Linked DNA regions of Homo sapiens. The protein of the gene in region 3 purifies or fractionates together with the protein of the main gene of each other region. This does not show direct contact. Each region holds a gene or a part of one and is shown on either strand. Other genes may lie near its edges. The genes, in order: COBLL1, AP3S1, BTBD8, KIRREL1 and ZC3H14.

What was found.
Region 1: the proteins of BTBD8 (region 3) and COBLL1 purify together in Homo sapiens (affinity purification with mass spectrometry; one large-scale study listed by BioGRID and IntAct). This does not show direct contact.
Region 2: the proteins of BTBD8 (region 3) and AP3S1 purify together in Homo sapiens (affinity purification with mass spectrometry; one large-scale study listed by BioGRID and IntAct). This does not show direct contact.
Region 4: the proteins of BTBD8 (region 3) and KIRREL1 purify together in Homo sapiens (affinity purification with mass spectrometry; one large-scale study listed by BioGRID and IntAct). This does not show direct contact.
Region 5: the proteins of BTBD8 (region 3) and ZC3H14 purify together in Homo sapiens (affinity purification with mass spectrometry; one large-scale study listed by BioGRID and IntAct). This does not show direct contact.

Annotation. Positions count from the first base shown.
Region 1 is NC_000002.12:164,698,218-164,702,915, reverse strand, and holds part of COBLL1 (cordon-bleu protein-like 1), read left to right. Parts: intron 1-2,159; coding exon 2,160-2,394; intron 2,395-3,416; coding exon 3,417-3,511; intron 3,512-4,698.
Region 2 is NC_000005.10:115,865,207-115,869,904, forward strand, and holds part of AP3S1 (AP-3 complex subunit sigma-1), read left to right. Parts: intron 1-1,463; coding exon 1,464-1,555; intron 1,556-4,698. UniProt on the Homo sapiens protein: Part of the AP-3 complex, an adaptor-related complex which is not clathrin-associated. The complex is associated with the Golgi region as well as more peripheral structures.
Region 3 is NC_000001.11:92,078,623-92,083,987, forward strand, and holds the start of BTBD8 (BTB/POZ domain-containing protein 8), read left to right. Parts: upstream 1-1,722; 5' UTR 1,723-1,949; coding exon 1,950-2,098; intron 2,099-5,365. UniProt on the Homo sapiens protein: Involved in clathrin-mediated endocytosis at the synapse. Plays a role in neuronal development and in synaptic vesicle recycling in mature neurons, a process required for normal synaptic transmission.
Region 4 is NC_000001.11:158,097,073-158,101,329, reverse strand, and holds the end of KIRREL1 (kin of IRRE-like protein 1 isoform 1 precursor), read right to left. Parts: 3' UTR 1,068-4,257; downstream 1-1,067. UniProt on the Homo sapiens protein: Required for proper function of the glomerular filtration barrier. It is involved in the maintenance of a stable podocyte architecture with interdigitating foot processes connected by specialized cell-cell junctions, known as the slit diaphragm.
Region 5 is NC_000014.9:88,604,030-88,608,727, forward strand, and holds part of ZC3H14 (zinc finger CCCH domain-containing protein 14), read left to right. Parts: intron 1-3,213; coding exon 3,214-3,334; intron 3,335-4,698. UniProt on the Homo sapiens protein: RNA-binding protein involved in the biogenesis of circular RNAs (circRNAs), which are produced by back-splicing circularization of pre-mRNAs.

The DNA.
Region 1 (4,698 bases), on a different chromosome or scaffold from region 3:
TACAACAGAGTGGATTAGTTAAATAAAATCAGTGGTTCCGAAGAATTTTAGCTTCTCTTCTATTTGGCTTATATATACTGAGGGGTCACTTTGAAAACACAATTGAGGCTGGGCATGGTGGCTCACACTTAAAATACCAGCTACTCATGAGGCTGAGGTGGAAGATTGCTTGAGCCCTGAATTTTGAGACAGCAGTGAGCTATGATCATGCCACTGAACTCCAGCCTGGGTGACAAAGCAAGACCTTATAATAAAAATTAAAAAACACATTTGTATCTAAACCATCATGGCCTTTCATTTTTTTTCAATACAGAGTTTTCAAATTATTATTATTATTATTTTTTTTTTTTTTTTTTTGAGGAGTCTCACTGTTGCCCAGGCTGGAGTGCAGTGGCGTGATCTCGGCTCACTGCAAGCTCCACCTCCTGGGTTCACGCCATTCTCCCGCCTCAGCTTGCTGAGTAGCTGGGACTACAGGCGCCCGCCACCACACCTGGCTAATTTTTTTGTATTTTTAGTAGAGACGGGGTTTCACTATGTTGGCCAGGATGGTCTCGATCTCCTGACCTTGTGATCCGCCCTCCTCAGCCTCCCAAAGTGCTGGGATTACAGGCGTGAGCCACCACGCCCAGCCTAGAGTTTTCAAATTATATAAATACGTTCTTAACACATAGATACAATATGCTATCGTAGACACATTATTTCTATTTCACATCATAATAAAGCATCATTTGCCAAAATATGTACATTTGAATATTCACTTAAACCTAAATTTTAAAATATTTTTTATTGAGTAATCTATTTTTATTAATGATAAAAATACCATTAAAATTTCTCATGTTTATTTCTCAAAGAGCACAAATAGCACACTTTTCTGTCTGTATACTTAGAGATAAAATTTTAAAAATATATTTTAAGTACTTTAAATATTGAATTATGTTAAAAATTTAAATTAAATTTTCTGAATGTGCTGATTACTATAATTGGATGCTACACCACCTCCCCACCCCGCCCCCCCCTCCCACCACATCCCCAGCCTTGGGATAAAATTAAATTTCATTCAGATACTGTGGTGTATATGGAAATGTTTAATTATATTTAGCAAAAATCCAGAACCTCACTCTGGCTTACATTTACTTCCATGGCTAATCTTGACAATAAGCATGAACATTAACTGCTCAGGATGCCTCCTTCTCTTTTACCCTGCTGGCTACTGGTTGTTGGTGATAAAATACATTTTTTTTATACAGTGAAATGTTAACCACAGCTATTGAAAATATTTATGTGTAAACATATATATTAATATGGATGATATTTAAGATATTGTAAGTGGAAAAAAAGCTAGGTGGCTACAGTATGCTTCCATTTATATTAAATAAACTAACAAAAGGAAACGTGAGTATGGTTATCAGCCTATGTATGTATATTACACTTTCTCAGGACATACAGGAAAAACTGTTAAAGCAAGTTGCCTCTGAGAATCAAACTGGTTAGGAATAAAACTTAATTTTCATTGTCCAATACTTGCTCTATTTGTATTTTCACAAATTAAGCATCTAGGTCAGTGGCTTTTAACTGAGGTTGCATAGTAGAATCATCTAAGTAGTCTTAAAAATCCCTTGCCCCACCCTTCAGAGATTCTGATTTTGTGGAGTAGGGTGTGAGCCTCAATATTTTTAAAGGGGGCTCAGGTAATTCTCAAGTATAGTTGGTACTAATAACTATTGAGTCAAATTTTATGAGTGCCCTTGTAGACAATACAAAAATCTCATGTGCTTTTCATTTTCACTTTTAAAATTATTAATTTGCCTTTAATTTGCACTATTGAGTTGCTGGATGAGTGTAAAAACCATTCAATTGTAAGACATTTCTTAAATGAAATATTTAACTTAAAGTTTATGAGATTAAATAACCTCTTGTCTCTACCATGAATAAAACCTAGAGTGATAGCAAATTGTTTTGGGAATTATGAGTCTGAGATAATCTGGTTTTATGTTAACGTGACTGCTCACCAGGAGAAAGAACTTCACTATTATTTTTGAGGCAGAATTTAAAAGAGTCCAGCTAATTATTATTTTTCAAAATTCCTTCCTTGCCAGAATTGCATGTGATGAATGAGGCAAATTAATATTTAGGATTATATCTGCATTTCTTTGTAGCTGGAATAAGCTCTGATTATAGCCTTGAAGAGATAGATGAAAAGGAAGAACTGAGTGAAGTGCCTAAAGTTGAAGCTGAAAATATTTCTCCGAAGTCACAAGATATTCCTTTTGTATCTACTGATATAATAAATACACTGAAAAATGATCCTGACTCAGCCCTTGGCAATGGTAGTGGAGAGTTCTCACAAAACTCCATGGAAGAAAAACAAGAAACTAAAAGCACAGATGGACAGTAAGTAGTCTCTGTGCTGGAGTGTTGGTGGCCGTTAGTTTAATTAATACTAGTCTTCTGAAATATAGATCTGATATTTTAAACATAAATATAGTCAGCCCTTTGGTTTTGACTTTATCCTTTTTACCATTATATAAGAATGTTTATTAATGAAGTACTTATTTGCATGTAATTACATTCAAAGAAAATCAAATGTGACAGTTCTAATATCCCTGTGTCAGATAAACCATGAGAAATAGTTTGTGTGATTCAAAAATGAAAATTTTTCTTTTTGTGGGTGTTTTGCCTGTTAACCTATGTGACCTATATGTAATATTTAATTTTCAATTTTTACCAAGTATTCCTGGTGGATTTTCACTGGTATATGAAAACAATTATGCATATTAGAATATGATGTTAAATCACGAGTATTATCTTTGCAGTCAACTTTATGAAACAGAGAATGTACTTTCTGCTTTATTCTAGAAACAGACAGCTATAGTCTAGTCCACTTAGGTTTGAAATGCAACAACATGGATAAAGATGAAATCAACCAAGCAAAATAAACCATATATGTCAGACGTTTATTATAATTTGCATGAGATTGTCTCCTTATTAAACTATTCTACCACCAAAGGGAAAAAAAGATCAGTGAGGTCAATCTACATTCTTATTTATATAGTTGACCTTGCCAGATGAAAAACTAAAATGTTTCATTTAATTTCCTTTTTCTTTAAAAGGCAAATAAATGATAATAGCAAAATAAAGCCACTATTTTGGAAAAGTGTCTATTTTACCAAGCTTCTTTCTTTTTAATGGGACCACCACATGAAAGCTAATGTTTCATAGCAGCATTTCTTCTCAGTTATATTTTTTCTCTGCTATTAAATTTCCGATGTTTGGCAGAAATAAATGATTATTTTAGTCCATCTGTCTTTGGAAATTATTGCCTGTTTCTCATTGTGTGTGTGTGTGTCTGTGTGTGTGTGTATGTGTGTGTTTCAATAGTATCAACATATAACATACAATGTCGTATCTTCCAGAGAACCACACAGTGTAGTATATGATACAAGCAATGGAAAGAAGGTAGTTGACAGTATAAGAAACTTGAAGTCGTTGGGCCCAAACCAAGAGAATGGTGAGTTATATAAATTAATAGCCAACACTTTCTTACTTTTATTATGTGCCAAGGACAGTTCTTAACACTTTATATGTATTAACTCATTTAATCTCCTGTAACTCACTTAATACCTACCTCATTTATGGATATTATGGGTACTATTATTTTTAGTTCCATTTTACAGATGATTGTGCCACAGAGATATTAAATAACTCACCTGAGGTCTCACAACTACTACGGTAAGTGGTGAACCTAGGATTTAAACTGGGGCAATATTGCTCTAGAGTGTGCCCTTAACTACCATGTGTACTACTTTTGTTGTTAAAACATAGAAATTATCTAATTTAGACTTTGGATCTTAAAAATGTTTCTTCTGTGTATCTATTTGCGATCTGTTTCTCTTTTTTTCCATCTAACTTCCTTGGATGAAACTTTTCTGCCTGATTTTTCAAGGCCCAAATCATCTAATAATATAACCTTATTTACCACTGTTTCCCAGTTCCCATCCTCATATTAGCACAACTTATTTTTTCTCATGATGTCATTTGCTTATTTCTATATCATAAGGCATATATTCATGTTGTCTTTGTCTGAAAGACAATTTTTCATCTATTTTACCCATTCAATTTTTATCCAAATCATATCATTTCATGTTTTTACTTGATTATTAGAAGCTTTGCGGTTCTATATTTATGATTCCTCAACTGAATTAGGCAGTCTTGGATCAGATAAATTACATGTGATACTTTGCACTACTCATGGCACCTAACAGAATCCTGAGATACTCATAAAATATGTACTTAGTATTGAATTTCAGAAAAACAATCCTATGCAAATAGAAAATTCAAAAAATACTCAATGGTGTTTTAAGGGGTTAAGAAGGAAGTGGCTTATGAATTCTCATAGTCCAATCTATTATGTTAATCTAGAAAACTAGGTTAAGATATTTAGAAAACTTAGGATGTAGTATTCATATTTGAATAAGACATAGATAATCGCAATGTCATACTTATATATATAATTATATATATATATAATTGTATGTGTGTGGTATGTGTTCATTAACTTGATTATGTGTGCTACTGATTCATTTTCTCCCACATTCAATACCATTGTGAGATATCATACTGAGAAGGTCTAAAAGCAAATAATTTTTTCATTCTTTTCCACTTGAGTCAGTTTTTCACAGCATGTACTGTGATGGC
Region 2 (4,698 bases), on a different chromosome or scaffold from region 3:
GAAGCCTTTTTGATGATCTGTTTCCACTCAGTGAATAGTAAATATATTTTCTCTTATGATTTTCTTAATAACATTTTCTTTTCTCTAGCTTACTTTAAGAATTGTTAAGAGAAAAAGTGTAGTGGAGTTAACATTTTTGGGGAGTGAAAACTTATGCATAGATTTCCAAATGCATGGGGGATCAGCATCCCTAACTGCCACATTGTTCAAGGGTCAACTGTCTATGTAATTGCCAATGTGCAATTGTTTTTGATCTTCAAAAACTGGTTTCATATGGTTTAGATTAGTATCTAGGAGAGAAAGTGCTGGTTAATAAAACTGTTTCCCCAAGTGATTATATGTTTACCCTCCCACTGGTGAGATGAGAGTTTCTTTGGCTCTACATCGTTGTCAACATTTTTTACTATCATATTTTTATACTTTTGCTGATATGGTACATGTGGAGCTATCTCATTGTTTTAATTTGTATTTCACTTAATTACTACTGCGATTTAGTATCTTTTCATTTCTTTGTGGACCATTCACATCCTTTCCTGTGAAATTGGTGTTCATGATTTTGGTCAGTCTTCTATTGCAGTGTTTAGGAAGCTTACTCTTGTTTTGTTTTGTTTGAGATAGAATCTCACTCTGTCGCCAGGCTGGAGTGCAGTGGCGCGATCTCAGCTCACTGTAATCTCTGCCTCCTGGGTTCAAGCGATTCTCCTGCTTCAGCCTCCCGAGTAGCTGGGATTACAGGCACGTGCCACCACACCCAGCTATTTTTGTATTTTTAGTAGAGACGGGGTTTCACTGTGTTGGCCAGGATGGTCTCGATCTCCTGACCTTGTGATCCACCCATCTCGGCCTCTCAGAGTGCTGGGATTACAGGCATGAGCCACTGTGCCCGGCCAGGACGCTGACTCTTACTGGAATATGAATTGCTTGGTCCAGGTTAATAAATGTTTATTGACCCAATCCTTGGCTTTAGATCGGCTTATATAAAGATGAGTAAGATGGATGGACTCTTACCTCAGTCTATATTTAGTAAAGGTTAAACTTAATTGGAAGCTCCATAGTTCTATTTCTTTCCTCCATTCAAATATAGATTAGCTACACTATTTATATCTTTACCTTTCTGATTCAGTTTACTCATTTGTAAGATAATCAGCTTTGACTAGTTAATATCTAGTTTCCCTTTTACCAGTGTATGTAATTCATCTAATATTTTTTCTTGTTGGTTTTTGAAACTTAGAAATGTGTTACTTTTATTATAGTGGTAAATATAAATAATTGGGTTTTTTTTCTTTTTCATCAAAAAATACTGGGTTTTGCTTCTGTAAGGTATAATTTAAGTCACTTCTCCAAGGACCCCTCTCTTAGATGGATTTCCCAGACAGATATTGCTACCTTTGATTTTAAAAATTCTTAAAATGCTATTAAACCTATACACTCCATCCTAATATATATGAATTATTCTTCCTCAGAGTGAAGATACACAACAGCAAATCATCAGGGAGACTTTCCATTTGGTATCTAAGAGAGATGAAAATGTTTGTAATTTCCTAGAAGGAGGATTGTAAGTAAAGCATTTCATAGACATTTCTAAGTTTTGACTATGTGATTAAAATATATACTGTTTAATCAGTTTATGGTAAAAGTTTTCTACTTTTGATTAATTGGATTAGGTGAATTAATTGCCACCTATGTTAGCTATAAATCTAACTTAAAGAATTATTTTTAAAAGATATGCAATCTTTTTTCCTCTTAAAAATTTTGGAAGGGAATTTTATATAAAGGTAATATATTAAATCGTAAAAATTCCAACATTACAGGGAAGTATAAAATGTAAAATAAGAATCTCTCAACCTTAGTCCTTCTACCCAATTTCTTGTGTATCCTTCTAGAAAATAGTTTGTATTGACTAACATATAAAGTATGTTATATGTGTTGACTAACCTACAACCTTAAAATTTTTATTTATGAGATCACACTTTGTATGCTCATTTGCATGTTGCTGGTTCTCAGTATTTTCAAAAGCTTTGCATAGAAACACATCTAGGACAAGCTTATTCTTTTTAATGACTACAGAGTATTCCTTTTTGTGAATGTTCATAAAAATTAGATTACATTCTTTATTTTACTGTTACAAGACTGAAGTCTGTTTTTCAAATATACCTAATTCAGCTAATCAATTTTTCTATTTTTAAAATGAATAAGAATATTGCCAAATATTACAAACAAATACTTTTAAACTAATAACTTCCATGAAAATGGTTTGTTCTCAAACATAAATCAGTCAGAGAAACTTAGAATTTTCTGTATTTTACTGTGTATGATGGATGAGAAATACTCTGGATAACAGGGAATCCATGGTCATAAGGTACTTTTTATCATGTGGAACACTTAACTTGGGTTTCCTGAAAGATTATATCATGCTGTCCTTAAATGTCCAATACATACTTACAAATTTTGCTGTTAACTCAAGGCTTCTAATTTAATAATTGAGACAAGTGTACCTGCTTCTGTTTTTGAATTTTACTTGTACTTATTTAATTTTAGTTGTCTTTGACATTACTATCACTTCCTCTCATCCTAGCCTCTTGATTTCTTATCTCCTAGGAAACTTACCACCCAGCACAGTGCACTGCATGTAAGAACTTGATTAATCTTACTAGGGTGCTATTTGAATTAGAAATTGTGGCTGGAAATTGTGATTGTTCTTTTTTAACCTTACAAAAAATAGAAAGCAAATATTGCAGCAGAGATGAGGCCTCACATCTAGTTTAATCCTAGTTTTGTCACTAACTAGCTGATTTCCTTGGACAGGTTACTTAAATTCTCAGGCCTCAGTTTTCTCCTCTATAAAATGAGTTATTTGGACTAACAGGATTTCTCAGTCCTGTGGTTTTATATGATGTATTACATTCTGTACAGGAATTTTTGTCAGTATTATACTATAGCTTAAAGATAAGATTATATTTTTAAAGGCAAAATATGTACTTGCCGCATTAATATTTTGCTTGCTTTTAATAGCATTACTGGCCTTTTTGAAACTTATATTCTTCAGAAGTTTGCTGTCCTTTTAAAGTAAAGCAAAAGTTTTAAGATAATCACTAAATCGCTGATTCAGAATGGAGTAAAGCCTCCTATTTGTGTTCTTTTTGCCTCTTTCAGGGAACAATTGCAGTCATAGTCTGTAAATATACTCTCAGAATCTTTAAATTGCATGTAGATATTTTTAAATTAAACATCTTCTCTAGAAGAGTATCTAGCATAGTAGGAAATTTTTATTCTTGTCAAAGATCATTTCTCCTTTTGCTATTAGAAGACATAGAAGTAGTATATACCTTGGGAAGTTGTTTCTACAGAACTTATAAGTTTAGTATTATTTTTACTGTGTAAGAAATAGATGCTGGCCAGGCGCAGTGGCTCACGCCTGTAATCCTAGCATTTTGGGAGGCCTAGGCGTGCAGATCTCCTGAGCTCAGGAGTTCGAGACCAGCCTGGGCAACATGGTGAAACCCCATCTCTACTAAAAGTACAAAAATCAGCCAGGTGTGGTGGTGTGCGCCTGTAATTGCAGCTACTTTGGTGGCTGAGGCAGGAGAATTGCTTGAAGCCAGGAGGCAGAGGCTGCAGTGAGCTGAGATAGCACCATTGCACTCCAGCCTGGGTGACAGAGTGAAACTCTGTCTCAAAAAGAAAGAGAGAGAGAGAGACAGAGAAAGAGAGGATGAAGGGAGGGAGGGAGGGAAGGAAGGAAGGAAGGGAGGGAGGGAGGGAGGGAGGGAGGGAGGGAGAGATGCCATTTTCCCATATTCTGTTGGGATGGATGTTAGTTTAATTTTGGTTACATATAGCCTTGATTGTAAATTATGTAAGTGTTTAGGGGTCTTTTAAGAAGGTGAATTCATTATTGTAAACTTAACTATGAAATAGCTAAACTATATTTAGAAAAATATGTTTGGAATGATTCCTAAATTATTATTTCTAAAATACTAAAATTCCAGTCATTATAAATAAAAGTATTTCATGAAAGAGTTTAGTATCTTAGCTCAGTTTTCTTGCATTTATGTCAAAACAATGTAATTTTGGAAGAGATCTTGACGGTAAATCTATCCAAAACTTAAGAAGTGTCATTCTTCTTTTTTTTCTGGTTGATAATCAGTCTTAAGCTGTGTAACTTACTGTGACGTATGGAGTTAAATCTAGTAAGCACTTACAAATGCCCCATGATCTAATTTCCGCCTACTTCTCTGACTTTATCATTTACTAATCTTTTCTTATCTACTGGCCTTTTTTCTCTTCCCTGAACATACATACTTTGTTCTTGATGAAATGTCCTTTTAGTACTTACTACCTTAGCCTGAAATGCTCTTCTCTAAATTTTTTCCAAGCCAACTCCTTATCATTAGATCTCAGCTTAAATGCCACTCTTGCTTAATATTCAGCCTGAAGTAGGGAACCCATCAATATATCATCATTGTATTTTGATTGTCAGTGTAACACTTGCCACTATCTGATGATGTTCTGATGTGTGTGTTTGTTGCTTCTTCCCCACTACCAGTGCTTGGCACATAGTAGTTACTCAGAGAATAGTTTAATGAATGAATGAACTGAAATTAAGCACTGGCTTCTTTTACTTGATGTTTCTGAAGAAAACAGCCACCTTAATTCACCTAGTCTCTGAATAAGTTCACTTAAATACTTTGCCATTGA
Region 3 (5,365 bases):
GAATAATGGGGCAACAAACATGAAAGTGCAGATATCTCTATGAGGTGCTAATTTCATTTCCTTTGGGTATATACCTGAAGAGGGTTTGCTGGGTCATGTCATAGTCCTATTTTTAATTTTTTGAGGAACCTCCATACTGTTTTCCATAATGGCTGCACCAATTTACATTCCTACGAAAAGTATATGTAAATTGACTAAATTTGCCAGTCAAAATATAAATACTGCCTGGGTTATAATACACCATTATTATGGTGTAACACACCATATATTATAGTGTGATATATGACATTGTGTGACCTTGGCCAAGTTTACCTATCCTTTGTATGCCTCAGCTTCCTCATCTGTAAATAGGTCTGAAGACAGTACCTAGCTAAATGGTTGTTGTAAGGATTAACTGAGTTAAAACACACAGAGCAAATAGAGTAGCGTTTATCACATAATAAGGATTCAAATATAAGCTACTATTATGTTATCTTTGACACCCCTCGTTTCTACAGGAATAATTAAGAATCAATTATCCATCCAAGCATTTGGGAATTAATTTTAAAAAATCAATTATCCAGTTATATTTTTCAGAATTAAGATGTCTGAATATTTGAGAGGGGGCATTATCTGAAGAAATGGTTACCTCTTGGCCAATCTTATGGTACAAATACAAAGTCCATATATTCCCCTCCCCGCCTCCTTTTTTTTTTTTTTTGTTTGGTAGAGACAGGGTCTCCTTATGTTGCCCAGGCTGGTCTCTAATTCCTGGGCTCAAGTGATCCTCCCGCCTTGGCTTCCCAAAGTGCTGGGATTACAGGTGTGAGCCACCGCAACCTGGCCAATGTATTTTCCAAGCAATTACTATTCTTCACCTTGTGTGTAGAGTTTGTGAATGAAACAGATTTTTTTTTTTTTTTTTTTTTTTGAGACAGGGTCTTGCTGTGCTGTTCAGGCTGGAGTGCAGTGGTGCAATCATGGCTCACTGCAGCCTCGACCTCCCGGGCTCAAGCCATCATTCCGCCTCGCTTCCCAAGTAGATGGGACTTGCCCGGCCCGAAGCGGAACTACTGAGTTTCCTTATTTTGGAGGCAGTAATCAAATAAAAAATACCAAAACCTTAAATGATAATCAGTTTGCTACTTTATTTGGGACAAAAGAGAATTCTATATTTCATCCATCCATCACTTCACTGCTCAAAGACTTTGCCCCTTACCTATTTCTCCCTTCTTGGTCATAAATGTTAGGGCTTTATATGCAAAGCCCTGTGCTTTCTCCGATCAAGTCCAAAAGCTTGTATGAGCCACTCCTTGGATAAGAAGGGGATGGGGCCTTCTAGATGCTGTAAGTATCTCTTATATTGAACTCAGAATTGTTCTGACTGGCAGTTTATGAAGTTCTTCCCCTACTCCTCCCATCGCCAATTTTTCTTGCCCCAAACATTTATACCTCAGGGTTAAGAAGCCAGGTAAGTGAGGGGGTGTGACTCGCCCAGTCTTTCGTTGGAAAAAAGTGTAGACCTGTCAGGAAGACACAGCATAGAAAGGCTGCATGTGCTGATTTGAACTCGAGCCTCAGTAAAACATTGAAATGAATGAACACCAACCGGAAGGGAAAGAAGAGGGGAGGGGATAAGGAGCCTGAGGATTGGTTTGCCCCGCGGGATGGTCCGCGCCTGAGCCATGGGAGGCGGGGTGCCCGCCGGCAGAAGTAAACAGAGCGAGTACGCCTGCGCACGCTCTTCCTGGGTCAAGAGCCGGCTCGGTTCTGGGATTCTGAGGCTCCCCACCGCGGTCCGGCTTCTCTGGGAGACTGTCTACAAACCGACGAGAGGCGTCAACCTTTTACCCTAGGGGGCGGATTTGGGTAGGAGCCGAGCGTTCGGTCGGAAACGCCCCCTTCTTCCTCCTGGGCGGGGCAAGTGAGGCCAAGTACTGGGCCTCCAGGGCGTCGTACCTCTGTGAGACATGGCTCGCTGTGGGGAAGGCAGTGCGGCCCCCATGGTACTTCTGGGGTCCGCTGGAGTTTGCAGTAAGGGGTTGCAAAGGAAGGGGCCGTGTGAGCGGCGCCGGCTGAAGGCGACGGTGTCGGAGCAGCTCAGCCAGGATTTGCTCAGGTAGGAGGAGGCGGGAACTCTGGCTGCTTCAGTTCCTAAATCGCCCACCTCCGCCCCGAAGCTGAGGCTTCTTTCGGCTCTGCCTCCCCCTCCCTCAGCACTTGGTTCTCCTCGCCTCAGGCGACTGCGGGTCGTTAGCCAGTCTCCCCACTATTCCGAAAAGTGGCTTCGCTCGCCCTGAATAAACAATCCCGAGCACCTCGACACCATGTACCAGATTCAAAAGGAAAACAAAAAAAGCTTAGTCGTGTGCAGCACTAGTTTGCTAGAAATATCTCAACACAGGCACGCTTAGTTGTTTCCAATCACTAAGGTCGGGTGGATCCAGGTCCTGAAACTTACACAATTTTTAAAATAAGCTTATACTATTTTAAGAAAAATAATAAAATTAGGAAAACGATTATTTGAAATGAGGAAAGAACAATACTATAGTCTTGGAGGTCTCTTCTGAGGTCTCTTTAAACAATTTACCAGAAATGCTTCCTGATTGCGACCTGGATTCCTCTCTCCACCTAGAGCTCTCTGTAGCTCCCAGCAACTCTCAGCTCCTGTGAGGACCAAAGCAAATGGAGGGTCTTCCTGACATTTAACCTTTGTAAGCCTCATGGATATCCTTCTCGGGTTATTGGGAATCCAGCTAAAGTAATTTCAGCTTACAAAGAAATTGAAGCTTAGAAATATGACCTAGCTAATTTACATTTCCAGCAAGACATTGATTCTTAAACTTGGGTGGGCATCACTGAAATTTTCCATTTCTAACAAGGCCCCAAGTGATGCTAATGCTGCTGGCTAGGGTGACTATGAGAACCACTGAGGTAAACATAATTACTAATAATTAAAAGTTGTGCAGCATTCTACTTTTTTTTTTTTGGAGACGGAGTCTCGCTCTGTCGCCCAGGCTGGAGCGCCGTGGCGCGATCTCGGCTCACTGCAACCTCCACCTCCCGGGTTCAAGCCATTCTCCTGCCTCAACCTCCCGAGTAGCTGGGATTACAGGCACGCGCCACCACGCCCGGCTAATTTTTGTATTTTTAGTAGAGACGGGATTTCATCATGTTGGCCAGGCTAGTCACGAACTCGTGACCACAAGTGATCCGCCCGCCTCGGCCTCCCAAAATGCTGGGATTACAGGCGTGAGCCACTGCGCCCAGCCAGGATTCTACATTTTGAAGTGCTTTCTGTCAAAAACTCACCCATACTTAAGGCTCCGATAGCTATAAACAGAATTTATCAAAGTAAAAAAAAAATCCCTTTAATTTGGGACTATCTACTGGGGAAGCTACTTTGTCTCTACCAGGGAGGGACTGATGAAAAAGATGGAAAAAATAATACTAAAGTTGTTAACGTTTCTAGGGTAACACATCTAATTTATATGAAGAAAATGAGGTTAAAGTATTGCTAGTGAACAATTTATCCTTATCTTAGTTACAACTGAGGGTAGGACTCAGAACTCTCAAATTCTTATTATAAACAAAGAAAAATAGATGTAGCAAGGTTTTTTTTTAAAACAAAACAAAACAAAATGCTCACCCAACCACCTTAAATGCTATACTAAATTAATTTTCTCCAAGCATAGCAATGTCATTTATTTATTCTACAAATACTAATGAAGTATCTAGCACTGACCACGTACCTAGCCCGGTACTAGGTCTTAAGTAATAAACGTTAATAAAACATTGCTTTGTTGTTTGTCCTTACACTCTAGTGAGAGAGGAAATGGCTAAATAAAAGTGATAGTTGTGGTGGGGTGAGTTGGGAAGACTTTATAGGGTGACATTTGAGTGAGCTCTTAGGGATTGGTTAAGAATTGATTAGGTAAAGATTGGGAAGGGAGAGGTAGAGGATATCTAAACAAGGGGAATAACTTTTATGGAAGCACAGAAATTTGAAAGAGCTTGATTGATTTTGAGAAAGCAAGTCGTATTAGACTCTGCCAAATAGTAAGGAACAGAGACACTCCTAGGTTACCTGACGTGACAAGATATGTAGAGAAGTGAGGAAAAGTGGGAGACAGTTTTAGCTGTCAAAAAGCCAGCTCCAATGTAGAACTGGAAAGTTGTTTGGGATATGGTAACAGTCATACAATAAGACCACATTGACAAATGGACTGTTATTCAGGGCAGTGGTAAAAAAAAAACACTAATACTTATTGCCATCCTACTATTTGCTATACACTGGGCTTACATGAAATGTTTTACTTACTTCTCTCATGAATCCTGTGAGGTAAGTCTTGTTATTCTCATTTAACACAAGAGGAAACTGAATGTTAAAAAAGAAATGATGGTGGCACCTATAGTCCCAGCTACTTGGGAGGCTGAGGCAGGAGAATTGTTTGAACCGGGGAGGTGGAGATTGCAGTGAGCTGAGATCAAGCCACTGCCCTCCAGTCTGGGCGTCAGAACAAGACTCTGTCTCAAAAAAAAAAAAAAAAAGTGGTGGAGTCAGAATAAGAACCTTGGCAATCTGGCTCCAGAGACTTTCAAATGACTTGCCCAGGGTCACATAACCAGAATATGAACCCAAGCAGTCTGCCTCCTCTACAGTAAACTGATCTTCCAGTTAACTTTGTACCTTCATCTCCTCTTCTCTCCTTACCCATTTCTTTTTCTACCATAGATTTGCTTAAGAATGCTCTTCAGTGCCATCAGTTGGTTCATGTTTATTATAGAACATCTTTGCTCAAGTTCTCCTGCTTGATTACTGCATTGGCCAGTGGCTAACCTTGGTTTAGCCCATTGTCCATTCAGATGTGATTAGGATGTAGGGGCATGTGGTACAAACCAGGGCCACATATAAGTAATAAATAAATTTGGTAGCTTTATTCGGAAGGAGATTGCATGGCAGGCAATCAAAGTGACAGTAGGTAAGGGTGAATGGGTAGACTAAGACTGGATCACAGGGGCTTTCTTTCTCCAGTGAAATGTTTGTGATGTATCTAGAAGGAGTGGAGAACCATCGGTGTTTTTAAAATAGGGAATTAACACATTTTGAATCTGGAATTTAAGGAAAGGAAAATTGGAAACAAGGAGACCAGCTGGGAGATTTTATAGTCCAGGGATACATAATGGCAGTGGAAATGGAACAATTGATAGGCTTGGTGACTGATGACATGCTGGGGAACAGGGAAAAGGAAGCATTGAAAATGGCCCCAAATCTTAGGACATTTGAAAGGGAAACATGTAGGCTACTACCATACCACCCTGAACAAGCCTGATCTTGCCTGAAAGGGAGGTGTATAATGAATGTCCAGCAAGCTATATCCAGGAA
Region 4 (4,257 bases), about 66 Mb from region 3:
CCTCTCATTCCCATCTGGATTGGATTCACCTTGGGCTACCTATAGGTTCTTGGTCCTGGCTACATGCCTCCAAACCCCAGGCCCCATGGCACCTTGCACCCTTCCTCAGCTGCAGCTCCTGTGCCGTGACTTCTAGCCCTCTTGGAAATGGGTTGCATTATTTCGAAAGTATTTTTTCAGCTCTTACATCCTGTCTTCCTCTCTGACTATGTTGGGTGTCCCTTGTGTACAAAAAAGGCTACGGTAAACTGTCTTGAGTTTGCTTCGTTGTTAACTGGATGAAGAAAACAATAAACCCTATTTCTCTAATGATTTATAGCTTTAAAAAACATTATCTGGGCCAAGCACAGTGGATCACACCTGTAATCCCAGCGACTCCAGAGGCCGACGTGGGTGGATTACTTGAACTCAGGAGTTCAAGACCAGCCTGGGCAACATAGCCTCTACAACAAAACAAAATAAAAGTCCAAAACAAAATAAAACAAAACATTATCTGAAAACTATTTCAGGTATCTGCAAACACTCCTGAGAAATGAGCAAACTGAAACCCTTGGGAACTCAACTCAGAGAATTTAGGATTTCTCAGCAGGATGGCCTCTGTGTGTGTGCACTGCTGCACCATCTGTTTTTTCATTCTGCTTCACTACAAGTTCAAAAGGTTGGAGACCTTGTAACTTTGCTTTTTACCCAAACCACAGCGTTTTAAATAAACAAAACCAGCCATTCTTACACACTTGTCCCAATTCCTTTGGGATCTAGATCTCAGATTCAAAAGTCTCCCCTTTTCCCATTCCCATAATGCGATTTGGCACAGAACATTTGGATGCTGTTTTCCAATAGCAGAAGCCTCCAGCTGTTTGTCCCTGAACTGCCATAATTGGCCTCAGGGTTCTGCACAAGTGGCAAACTAGAGAATACGTTTTTGCCCCACGGCCTGGAGGTGGCACAAACATTGCTTCTGCAATTTCAATCCAAACCTGTTTTTTCCCCAAACCAGGACTAACACCCAAAGCCAGGCAGGCTTTTAAGTAACTAGCCGTTAATGCATTAAATAACACAAAACATGGTACTTTTTAAAACATTTATATTTATATATATAAAAAAATTAAATATATATAATATATAGTGTGTTTGAGACTAAAAATATAGTACATAATATTTTTAAAAAAAGGAAAAAAAAGTAGAATAGGAAAAGGTGTGAGGGACACACAGATACACATTGCTAAAAACCTACAATGGTTTGTCCTAACAAAAATAATATCTTTTTTTCTCTTCTCTTAATTATCATCATGGATCCATTTATTTTTGGGGTCTGGGTGGAGAAAATTCAACAGGAGCTAGAAATGGAGGTTGCAATGCCAAGAATGGCTGGGTAGAAAATGTGACCACAGGGAGCCCTGGGCCTCTTCTGGTGAAATTGGACTTCTCAAAATTTTCTGGGTCACTGTTGCTAACAAGATTGTGTGGAGTTTTACTGTATTGGGATTTTGGCTGCTCTTTCCCCAGAGTTAGGGTATTCTCAGGGGGGACAGCATCTGAAGAGCTCCAAAAGCAAACAGAAGAGCTCAGGGCCCATCGATACTCAACAAGGCCAGTGGTTGGGGCCAGCAAAAAACCAGGGTAGGGACAGCAGACTGGCAGGAATGAGTGACAGTTCTATGCAAATGGAGTTATTATTATTATTGTTATTATTAATAAGGGCAGGTTTGTACCAGAACTGCCCAGTATGGCCTGTGACTTCTGCGCAGCAATTATTTCTCCAGGGACAGGGCCTGAAGCTACCTCACAGTGATGCAAAAAAATGGGATTCCCCACTAACCCCCACACACACCCCCTTCCTACCAAACCACACATCTCTCAGTCCTCTCCAGCAGCCCAGAGGTGAACGTCAGGACCACGCTGACAAAGATGAGCCAATGCCTTTCACAAAAAGCCTGGCCTTGAGGAGAGGAGGAGAAATACCATAGGGGGATAGGAGGAGGCCAAGAGAAGGGAATGGGATATTTAAATGCTAATTTTACAGCATCTTCACAAAAATAAATGCCTTTCAATTACATCCCTTGGCCTGTGCACTTCAGTGTTCATTATGGCCTCGCCAGGGTCAGGAGCTTCACTAATCCTTTTGGGCAATTCTCAACATGCACAGTGGCCTGTAGAGGCACCAAGCAGTGGCCTGGCTCAGGTCAGACAGCACTAACTTGGGGAAGCCAGGATTTCTGAGGCCAGGGTGCTTGGGGAGGAACTGGAGTTCAGCAGTAGGGACAGAACCTTCCACACAGCAAAGAACAAGGCAGTTCGCTCCAAACGGGTCTTGGCTTTAATGTGGTTTTCTTCAAACCCAAATGGCTGAACATTGCTATGAACATAGGTCATGTATATTGAGACACTGATTCCGTTTTATGGAGCCCTGTGGCTCCTGACAGGTTAACGAGAGGGCACGAAACTCCAGTGCGACGTGCTCCATTTTGAAAGCAGATAAAGCTCCCCTCATCAGAGTGAAGAGGAAAGTAGCCCTGCTGGAATAAGGGGAGAGCGTACCGCTTGAAGACAGGGTGCTCAGATGTTTTCATTCCAAGCAAGACAGTGATAACAGCACAGCACTGCTCCCATCCCTGGCCCCTTTCCTTTCTCACTTACTAGGCTTTTTGCTTCATGCAAACTCTGTGGCTGGACTTTGAGGGATCCAGAATTTAGGATATAGGGCGGGTCCTTCACGAGGGAAGTGACCGTGGCTCAGCCAAAATCACAAGATCCTCCTCAAGATCCAGAATGTATTCCAAAGCTGTTGTACCCCTTTCCCTCCACCGGCTCCCCTTGCAAGCTGCTCCTTCTCAGGCAGGGGCAGCTGTGCTTACTCCCCGACCTCTGGCTCCAGGCACCTTGGACTGCAGGCTTCACCTGTTTGGTGAGAAGAACAAGCTGTCCCTGGGCCAGAGGAATGTTCCTAAGGATCAGGGTGGAGGAAGGCTCCTCCCATTTTCCCCTACAGAAGGAGTGCCTGAAACCTAGGCACATAACAATATCCCTATGTGCATACTATGTCCTGCCCTGGCAAAAGGCACCTTTGCAAACCCATCAGAAATGAGTGGGGAGCAGCACAGATGACCCGATAGCCAAAGGATAGCCCCACATCAATTTTACTCTGAGGTTTAGGGTGTATTTTGTGTTGCTGTTTGGGATAAAGGGGTCCCTGGTGGAAACTAATTCACTTCTGACAAGATAATGAAGCCCATGGTGAAAGCTTCTTTGAACAGGAGAGAACCCCCCCAGCCAGCTCTCCAGCCCTCACCATGCTTGCTACTGTTCCCAGTTCCTTGCCAGCAATGGGCAGTCCCATCCCTACCCCCAACCCTATGGGTATAACAAAACCAGAATAGTTTTAGGTTTATGCAACCCTCCCCCTTCATTTTACAGGCCAGACAAATTGGGGGCAATGAACAGAAAGTTAGGCCGAGATCTAACCTTTGCAGCTTCAGGACTGGGTCCTGGGTCTCCTGACCTTTAGTCCCTTGCTCTTTCCACTAAAACAAGCCACCAAAGGTGATCAGGATCACCAACTACTGAGGCATCACCATGTTGCAGGACTCCAGGATTCGACAGCAAAGCTCTGTGATCAAGGACGCCTTCCACTCCCCAGAAAAGCTATTCCACTGGGCCCATCAGGTAGGTTCCAATTCAGATTCTGATGCACCAACACGTAAGTTACAGAGGGCAGAGACTACCTTGGTTGCTGATGCTTCCCTGTGCCTTCCAGGGTGCTTGTTTGACACCCAAGAGGCTCCAGTTACCTTGTTAAGGAGTAGAGGACAGTGAAGTAGCTCTGTGTCAGGCTTCTGGAAACTAGGCTTCCTTTCTCAACAATTCTCCCTGCACCATCAGCTCAATTACCTAGTAACCTTAGGCCCTCTCTCCATCATTTCAGTAGAATGAAACTAATACTTAAGCTAAAAGGGGATAAATAAGAGAATCTAGCCAAACCCAAAACAAAAATGAATTCTTTTTGGAATATGCATGTTTTAAAAGCCACCATCTTTAGACTTCAAGTCTTTGGATTCCCCCATGGTTTCTGGTTTTTGTGAAAATAATAGAAATTTGCATGAATTTGTCTGTACAAGAACCTGAATTTCTTGACAGACCTTCCCACTGAGCTCTCATAAAAGGACTCTATAGAAAGGTATCAGCTTCCAGGGATGGAATACAGCTGGAAGCCTGTAAATGCCCCAGATAGGGCCCACTCCACAGGAGTTTTCCCTGCTG
Region 5 (4,698 bases), on a different chromosome or scaffold from region 3:
CTTAAAAAATAGTAAAAGCTGCAGTAGGCAGTCCCGATTTATTGACTCTGTATGTTTTGTCTAAAGAGAAGACTCCAGTGTTTTCACTACTCTTGATTTTCAATTTGGTACCTTAATTTTTTGGTCTATTAGGATCTGGTTTCATTTAAATGTAGGTGTCCATATGAGGCTTTATGGGGTATACATGTAGCAGCAGTGACACCATAAATAATATGTTAGTAAAAATTCTTGCCAGTGCTGTGGCCATTGTGCTGACAGCCATGATGAGTGGTGAGCCTCCTTTCCCATTGCTTTGACTGGGGACTCAGTGTTTCCCTGCTGCTCAAGGATGAAGCTTTGTAAGATTAGCATAGGGGTGTGGCTGGAGAGACTCCTGCAGAACAGTTCTCAGGAGTCTCTAGTCTCTGCACCACTTCCCCTGTGAGCAGGGAGTTTGAAACTGCAATTGCTTCTGGTTGGTTTTATGTTGGGTTGTTTCAAGGATGCTACCAACAACAACATCTGTTTTAACCTGCTGTCTTTTCACTCACTGTCATATGGCAGCACAGATTTTATAGCTTGCTTTCTTTGTTTTTTTTTTTTTTGAGATAGAGTCTCTCTGTCCCCCAGGCTGGAGTGCAATGGAGCCATCTCAGCTCACTGCAACTTCTGCCTTCCAGGTTGAAAGCCATTCTTCTGCCTCAGTCTCCCAAGTAGCTGGGATTACAGGCATGCACCATCACACCTGGCTAATTTTGTAGTTTAAGTAGAGACGGGGTTTTACCATGTTGGTCAGGCTAATCTCCAACTCCTGACCTCAAGTGATCCACCAACCTCGGCCTCCCAAAGTTCTGGGATTACAGGTGTGAGCCACCGTGCCTGGCCTATAGCTTTCAATAAAAGGTGAATTTGCCTCTTAAAATTTGAACAGAAAGTTTTAATAGTTTACAAAGTCGGTGTCAGCCAGTGAAGACTAGGGGCATGACCTTCGTATGACTTAATGTTTTTAAAAGAAAGATAAAGTTTCTTTGTAAGGTATTATTGTAATAATCACATTTCTTTGTAAAGTATTATATTGTTCCTGAGTATCTAGCTACTTTGCTTTCCAGCTAGGCTTCTCTTGGGTATTCTCTTAATCTTTTATTTGTACTGGGTTCTTGTGTATATATTATAGTCTGCTGTGTGTAATTTATTATAGGAAAAGGGTAAGACACATTTACTTTGCGGGGATGACACAAAAAACCTGTAAAAATTAGAGAAACTTCCAGTCATCTCACATTTTCTTTGGAACCGATTATTCTTGTATCTTAGAACTAAAATGACTTATACTGTTTTGTTTTTAGAAAGGGTATCCCTCCTGTTGCCCAGGCTGGAGTGCATTGGCACAGTCATGGCTCACTGCAGCCTCCACCTCCCAGGCTCAAGTGATTCTCCCACCTCAGCCTCCTGAGTAGTTGGTTACTACAGGTGCACACCACCATGCCTGGCTAATTTTTTGTATTTTTTGTAGAGATGGGGTTTCACCATGTTGCCCAGGCTGGTCTGAAACTCCTGAGCTCAAGTGATCTGCCCGCCTCGGCCTCCCAAAGTGCTGGGGTTACAGGCATGAGCCACCACATCCTATTTAAAGCTTAAATAGGACTTTTACTATTTTTAAAGTAGCATAGAAAACTGTTTGTATCAGGCATAGTCATAATTGCTCTTTGATGCTGCTCCTATCTGGGCTGCATGACTACATTTGTGTGCCTTGTTCTCCTGTAGTGAGGACAGAATGTGGGTCACTGGAACAGTAAGTACTCATAGAACTAGCTGCTGCTGCTATTACGACTGGTTGCCTGTTTTGCATTTTTTCCGTTTAATCATCAGACTCTAAGGAAGACATTATTTTCTCTTTGTATAGATGAGGAAACAGAATTCCAAAAAGTTAGCTAACATTTGCACAGAGTGTCTGGCTGAGCAACTAAGTGGCAGAGTCAGATTTTAACTGACCTCTGGCAAGAGGACTAGAGGAATACAGTTGAAGTGATACTTGCTTTCATGAACATGAATGTGAACCATAATACATAATACCCATGATGCTATTTTGTGGGGAGTTTAAGGTGTCTCAGTCCAGAAATTAGCAGCTGATTATTGCCTGTAGCTGTAATTTTACTTATTCAGTGTTATTTAATAAATTGCCAGCATTACAATTTCGATGAAGGCAGATTTTTGGCTTACTGAAACAGGATAAAAATCTGGCAACAGGGGTCCCACTTTGCCCTGTCATAGTAATCGAAGCTGTGATTGGATGTGGCACAGGGAGTGGAGTGGATGGGTGTGCACTTGCTTTCCAGGCTGCTGCTCCCCGTCTGTCCCTTATTGCATTTATCATCTTCAGCCCAGTCAGTCTTGCTGTTAGGGGAACTGCCCAGTCTCTGTAAGTGATGGCATTTGTGACCCCATTGTAGGTAAAAATGTTTTCCCCTTTTTAGACATTGCTGGCTGAGCGCGGTGGCTCATGCCTATAATCCCAGCACTTTGGGAGGCCGAGGTGGGTGGATCGCTTAAGTCCTGGAGTTCAAGACCAGCCTGGGCAACGTGGGGAAACCCTGTAGCCAGGCGTGGTGGCACGTGCTACTTGGTAGGGGCTGAGGTGGGAGTATCACTTGAGCCTGGGAGGCAGAGGTTGCAGTGAGCCGAGATTACACCACTGGCACACCACTGTACTCCATCCTGGGTGACAGAGCAGGACCCTGTCGTAAAAAAAAAAAAAAAAAAAAAAAGTAAAAGACATTGCTGAGTTTCGCACCTGGACTTACAGCTCAGCAGGTGGGAATCCTTTTGTATTTGGGCCACTCATCATCTTGCTGGCGTGTGAGGATTCACATCTCCTTATCACCTTACCTGTTTTCAGTTTTTATTTAATTTTATTAGTTCCCCACTTGACGTCCTTCTCTATTTTTAATTCAGCTATGAATTAGTATTGAGAATTAGAATTTTTGGTGAAAAATTTGGCCGTAGTTGCAGAGTCACTGTCCTCTTTCCTTTTCACAGTGAGAACTGTTGTCTTCTTCCTGGCAACCTTTTATAGGATTCTATGGCCAGTGTTAATCCCATAATTTGAGCTCACTTATTTTATATGACTGTACATTTAACAGAAGATTCTAAGACAGGTTTGAGGGAAATATGTTAAAGGTGCTGTGTACTGAATTGATCATAATGAATGAAATACTTTTATTTCCTTTCCCTTTGTAGCTGAGATGAGTGAACTGAGTGTGGCACAGAAACCAGAAAAACTTTTGGAGCGCTGCAAGTACTGGCCTGCTTGTAAAAATGGGGATGAGTGTGCCTACCATCACCCCATCTCACCCTGCAAGTGAGTACCATCCCCCCATCTCACCCTGCAAGTGAGTACCATCCCCCCATCTCACCCTGCAAGTACCATCCCCCATCTCACCTGGCAAGTACCATCCCATCTCACCCAGCAAGTACCATCCCCCACATCTCAACCCTCAAGTGAGTACCATCCCATCTCACCCTGCAAGTACCATCCCATTTCACCCTGCAAGTACCATCCCCCATCTCACCCTGCAAGTACCATCTCCCCATCTCACCCTGTAACTACCATCCCATCTCACCCTGCAAGTGAGTACCATCCCTGCATTTCACCCTGCAAGTACCATCTCATCTCACCCTGCAAGTACCACCCCCTCATCTCACCCTGCAAGTATCATCCCCCATCTAGCCCTGTAAGTGCGAGTACCATCCCCCATCTTACCCTGCAAGTACCATCACCCACTTCACCCTGCAAGTACCATCCCCCACCTCAGCCTGCAAGTACCATCCCCCACCTCAGCCTGCAAGTACCATCCCCTATCTCACCCTGCAAGTACCATCCCCATCTCACCCTGCAAGTATCATCCCCCACCTCACCCTGCAAGTACCATCCCCCATCTCACCCTGCAATTGAGTACCATCCCCCATCTCACCCTGCAAGTACCATCCCCCATCTCACCCTGCAAGTGAGTACCATCCCCCATCTCACCTTGCAAGTACCATCCCCCATCTCACCCTGCAAGTACCATCCCCCATCTCACCCTGCAAGTATCATCTCACCCTGCAAGTGAGTACCATCCCCCCATCTCATCCTGCAAGTACCATCCCCCATCTCACCCTGCAAGTACCATCCCCCATCTCACCCTGCAAGTACCATCCCCCATCTTACCCTGCAAGTGAATACCATCCCCATCTCACCCTGCAAGTGAATACCATCCCCATCTCACCCTGCAAGTGAATACCATCCCCCATCTCACCCTGCAAGTGAATACCATCCCCATCTCATCCTGCAAGTGAATACCATCCCCATCTCACCCTGCAAGTCATAGCCAGCTGATTTTGGCTTTCAGTTTAGTGTCTGTATCTTACACCTTATTTTGTTTTTGTTTTTCTGTGGACAAGTTTTTAGTTTTATAACTAAATGGAGTGACAATTACCATGGCCCTCTCCAGAGTAGCGTATTTCTTGTTCATGTATGTTTGTTGAGAGGCAAGGGTGGGGGGGCTTTGTTTGTGCCTCGGACCTGTGAGATACTGAAATACCTGGGGTTCCTTAAGAATTCTGTACGTTTAAGCAGATGGGTATATGGTAACTGCCCCAGTTTGTATGCATTTTGGCCACACGCAGTATACACAGATTTTGAGGAGTTGAGGGAAAAGTTAGTTATGGGTAATGAAAACATTT